Linked DNA regions of Homo sapiens: region 2 is linked to region 1. The links come from fine-mapping of genetic effects on gene expression. Tissue or cell type: lung. Region 1 holds a variant in brackets; the other region holds the start of a gene. All regions are shown on one strand. Distances are between the middles of the regions.

Evidence for each region. PIP is the estimated chance that this variant, and not a neighbour inherited with it, causes the effect.
Region 2: it holds the start of EVA1A, and the variant in region 1 is fine-mapped to the expression of EVA1A in lung (TOPMed, PIP 0.95).

What each region holds. Positions count from the first base shown.
Region 1 is chr2:75,594,335-75,597,018 of GRCh38, reverse strand. No RefSeq gene overlaps it. Among named protein-coding and RNA genes, the nearest start is that of EVA1A, 35 kb to the right of the region's middle. The variant G/A (reference allele first, on the strand shown) is at 1,591.
Region 2 is chr2:75,559,722-75,562,405 of GRCh38, reverse strand. It overlaps EVA1A (eva-1 homolog A, regulator of programmed cell death), which reads left to right and starts at 1,467. Exons shown (of 4, transcript NM_001135032.2): 1 at 1,467-1,726. RefSeq lists a silencer at 1,458-1,517.

The DNA of each region.
Region 1 (2,684 bases):
CATAAGGACGGCTGGATGACTCAATGTCTTCAGCAGAAGTCACCAAACCTAATGATCATGAGAATCCCTGGGGTGTGAAGTAAGAGGTGTCCTCTACTCAACGAATTCTCTGACTCATCTATTAATTCAATTTTGACACTAACTGCCTGGAGTGAGTGTCAGGCAACACAGGGTTAAGGTCTCAGACCCACAAGACTGCTCTCACTTCAGGAGCCAGTCACAAGTATCAAGCCCCCAAAGTTACCAAATTGGCCACAAACTTGGGGGTTCTCATAGCTTCTCCTGGCCCAAGTTTTGATAATTTGTTAGAACAATTCACAGAACTCAGAAAAATGCTATATTTACTATTGAAGTTGATTATAAAGGATACAAATGAACAGCTAGGTGAAAAGGTACATAGCACAAGGTTTGGGAGGGTCCCAAGTGCAAGAGCCTTTGGGGATGTGTTTGCCAGTTTGGAAGCTCTCTGAGCCCCATCTTTTAGGGTGTTTTTTTTTTTAATGGAGATTCTGTTACAAGGGCATAATTGATTAAATTATTGGCCATTTGTAATTTGACTCAATTTCCAGCTCCACTCCCCTCCCGAGAGGTTCAAGAGTGGAACTGTGTAGCTCAAAGTTTCAACCCTCCACTCACATGGCTGATCCCCCTGGAACCCATGAGAAGCTATCTCAGGCCCACCCTGAGTCACCTCATTAGTATAGACTCAGATATGTTTGAAAAGAGCTTGTTATGAATAACGAGACATCCCTAACACTTCTAACAGTCAGAAAATTCCAAGGGTATTAGAAGCTCAGTGCCAGAAATGGGGGACAAGGACCAAATAAGCCTTTTTATTTTACTACAGAGGATTAAGTATGTAGATTCTTGGGACCTATTCCAACTGTATATTGAATTAAAATTCTTAGGAATAAGACTCAGACATCTCTTTTTTTCTTTCTTTTTTTTTTTTTTTCCTGCTGGTTTGTTGATCTTGGACATTCCTAGTTTCTAAAGCATCCCCAGTGATTCTGATGACCAGCTAGCTTTGAAAATTACTGATCATGAATCATTTGTGAGGAATTTGGAGAAACATCCCAGCATCACCTACATGCACAGATTATTCTAAACTAGACATTACTGGATTTTTCCACTTATGTTAAGATTCTTGGGCAGGATGAGTTTTTTCTACTTCTTGGTTAAGCCAACCTGAGGCCTCCAGGTTCTCTCCAGACCTGTGCTTCAACTTGGTGTTGGCCTGGGATCCTCAATATAGATGTCTCTGATGCCCCTGGGCCAGGCTAATGTGAGTTATTAATGTTGTTTGCCAACTATTTATAGCTCTTCTCTCTTCTGGGCACATGGCAGAATTGCACTTTCTTGCATCCTTTGATTAAGTGGGCCCATATACCTAGCTCTGGCCAATGATCAGAAGTGATGTGTGTCACTTCTGGGCCAGAACATTTTATTACCAGTGCAAGATCCTCCAGAATTCTCTGTCTTTCTATCTGCATGGTGGGAGTGGCAACTTTCTGAATGGCAGTTGCTCTGTTAGTATGAGTTCCTGAGTGACTGTGATGTACAGGACCTCCTTGCTGACTTACGATGGAC[G/A]TGTAGTATTAGCAATAAAGAGATTTTTATTGTTTGAAGCCACTGAGATTTGGGGGATGTTTGTTATGGTAGCATAGTCTAGTCTAGCCTGATTGATCTAGGCAGAGATTGTAGGCTTATCCCTCTGAAGCTTTCTCATTCTTTTGTGGCTTTGGGATTAGGATCATGCCTCTTAACCAATTTGGGTTTTTTTTTTTCTACTTCAAAGACTTATTAATGACAAAAGTCTCTCCTTATTAATGCAGGAATTAGCACTCTTTCACCCAGTAAACTTGTCAGGGGCCTGTCAGTATTCTCAGAACAACCAGTAACTGTTGAGAAAATGATGCTATCAGTTGAATGGTAGTGGCTTTTGTTTGCTTATCATGTGCAACTCATAATTATGAATGCCGGGACATAAACTAACAAAGAAAATTCTAGTTAACAGTGTTTAAAATACTTCATAGAGTATTGTCTTTTTAAAGGGCTGTCTTACAGACATGCTTCACAATTTTTCTGAAAAGCCAGTGGTGTGAGATAATCTGTCTGTCAGTGAAATTAGTGTCGTTTTCCTACCCTCAGCAAAGGTGATATTTATTAAAACTGTTTTTTAGAGATTATTTTTCTCTCTTACTTTAGTACAGAAGTCAAGACCCCTGGTAATCAAAGAGAGGAAGCACTGCGTTACCTCCTGAGTCAGCACATAGATGGGGCTGCGTCTATGCAGCTGTGACTTGTCATTGATTGCCATTCTTTTCCTTGGGGGAAGAACATAAACTTTTTTATGGCTGCTTTCTTTCATCTTTTATGCAAAAATAGCCACCAATGCTTCTTGTGTTGGTATCCTGGGTGATGAGTTTTCTTTATTCAGTTTATAGGTAATTATCTCCCTATTAGATCAATCATTTAATTTTATTTCTACATATAGAAGTTTTTACCTTTTGTACAAGTAATATGTGTATACATTCTGTTTATAAATAATTCAAGTACTGCAAATAATGCTGAAATCCCCGTTTGCCACTTCTCATTTTCCTCTCCAGGGTGAATTATATGTGTGTATCCCTTCGAATTTTTACATACATATTTACATGCACATGTGTACTTGTGAAATTATA
Region 2 (2,684 bases), 35 kb after region 1:
CTTGAGTAAGTCTGAAACAGTGGCTCTCATCTCTGGCTGTATGAGATCATCTTGAGAGCATCTGAAAAAAAACTGATGTGGGAGCTCCACCCCAGACAATTACAGAAATATTTGTGAGGGTGGAGCTGGGGCCACCTATTGGTTTTTAAAGCTCCCCAGGTGTTTCTAATAGACACCCAGGGCTCCATAGTCTAATATACAATCAGTCCAATATACAGCATAATATACAGTCAGTGGTCTAGCAGCCAGTGCTTCCAAATTCTAATGCACATTTGAATCATCTAGGGATCTTGTTAAGCTGCAGATACTAATCCAGTGGTTCAAGTGCGGCCCGAGGGTTTTCATTTCCATAAAGCTTCCATGTGGTGTTAGTACTGCCAGTCTCTGGACCACACTTGGAGTAGCAGCTCCAGAAGGCACTCTGGGATTCTAGTCATCCACGTGGTCACTGGCTACTCTAGCCAGAGGCCTGGGAGTCACCTCTCTCCTTCATCCTCTCCTCATCTTCTCCCTTTCAAGCCCTTGGTCATCAGATCTTGTCAGTTCCATCACACTGCTTCTAGGAGCTCCTCTCCTTTCCTAACGGACTGGCACAATATTTTCCTCCCTGTTCCCCACCATCACTCACTGCCCTGGCTGTGCTCTTTGCTAGACCGCCTCCTGAAGGCTTTCTTATTCCGTCTTCCCTCTGTCCAAGCTTTTATTTTGATTCTGTAGAAGGCTCTTTCACTCCGTGACCCATCTCTTAAGAGACCACCGCAACCCGGGACCTGTTCTCTCCCTGCACTCTTCCCCTATGACGATTGTATAGGAACAGGGTGTCCCTCTAGTTGTTTCTGCGTTTCCAGCCCCCAGCTGAGCGCCCATCACTCTCAATAAAATACTTGTTGATTTTAACAAACAAAACCCCAACCCTGAAAGAGAAAGGCCAAACAGAGGCCTCAGCTGCATTTCTTCCGATAAAAATGAACATTCCTTCGAGATTATGCATCAGGCTTTAACTTCCCACTCAGAAAAAAAAAAAAAAAAAAGTTGATCAAATTTAACAAAGTAAGTGGTTATTTCCTGTCTGAGTTGAGTAGCTGAATACAGGCTCAAAGCAGGCGACGGGACAGGAATGAGAGGATGGATGCTGGCAGGGGCTTGGAGGTCTGCTTTCAAATCTGGGCTCGTCCCAGCAGGGGGAAAGCCTGGAGGACCGGGATAGGTTGGGGACTGCCGATGGGGAACCTCCCCGGTCCTGCGGACAGTCGGCAGCGCGGGGAGGCAGGCAGGAGTTGGGAGCGTGAACTAACTTGGCGCGGAGGGAGGTGCCGCACGCCGCAGCCGTTCAGGTTTCGCGTCTTGCGGGCGCCCACATGGGCCGCTGGCTTGCAGAAGGGGGCGGGGGAGAGGGAGGGCAGGTCCGGAGCCAAGCGGGTGGAGGAGGGGGGAGATCGAAGGAAATGAGACAACCTTTTCCTCCCACTGACTCGGGCTCCTGCAGCTTCTGCGGGGCTTGGCGCCGCCGTCCGTGAGCACCCAGGCCGGGACCCCACATCCCCAGGCCAGCCCTGACCCCGGCGGCCCCTCCGCCGGGATTCCTTTCCGAGGTACTGGTGCCGGCCCAAGACCCGGGCAGCGCTTTGTCGTGTCCGCCCCTCAGTGATCAGCTCCGGGTCCCCCTGCTCGGCCCCGCGCGCCCCAAGCGCAGTCCCCGGAAGTGCGCGCCGGGGCCCCAGCAAAGGTAAGAGGTGCCCGAGAGCGCTCCCTGAACTCTGGGGGCGCCCGGCATCCCCAGCGGGCTCCGGCTTCTCCGAAGCGCCCTCTTTTCGGAAACACCCAGAGCACTTCTGACCTGAAGCAGCTGCTTTGTTCCCAAGTCCCTGCCCAGGTGTTGTAGGCTGGGTCCCACAGGGAACTCTGCTTCCCAGCGCTTTCTTTTTTGCCTCCTCTTCCTCCCACTTTCCTGTTTCTTCTCTCGCCCCCCCTGCTTCTTTCTGGATAGAACAACTCTCAACTCCCTGCCTCTGCAGCCCAGCTTCGGAAAGCAGGTCGTTCCCAAATCTAGCGCTTCTCTCCTGTGCCTCTGGGAGCTGGGCTGAGCCTGACTGGCTTCTATCCCAAGCCTGCGCGGGGCGGACCTGCCAGAAATGTACGTGCTGCACCGTGGACTATTTACCTGGTTTGTTTCGGAGGCAGCCAACTCGCCGCGCGCATTTGGCGACCCCCAGGACCCCGAAAGCCGAGTGCATCAGGGAGTGAAAGGCTGTTGGCGCCCCCTAAAGTCCCAGTGGGACGCTTTGCTTTTGGAGAGGGGCGCGCAGACAGTCCACGCTGCTCTATCTGGGAGGTCTGCGTGGGGGTCCCCACCCCTACTATTGAGGGGTAAGGGGAGGTGTTGGCACGCAGTACGGAGCGCGTTGGGACATGGAGGAAATGAGGATGTCCTGGAAGGAGAGGAGTGCCAACCACATCGTGCTGGCTTGCCATGTTGTTCTTATTAACTGCCTGAGTTCTCATAACAAGCCTGTGTGTAGGGACTCTTACCCCTATTTTACAAACGGGCAAAATGAGATGGGGCCACACAGCTAGCTAGGAAAGGGCCCAGCCAGGATTTGGGTCCTAGCTGGTCTATACCACACATACACTTCAAGTCCAGCCCTACAGAAGATTCTTCTTTTTAGTCTGAGCAAGAACCGTCC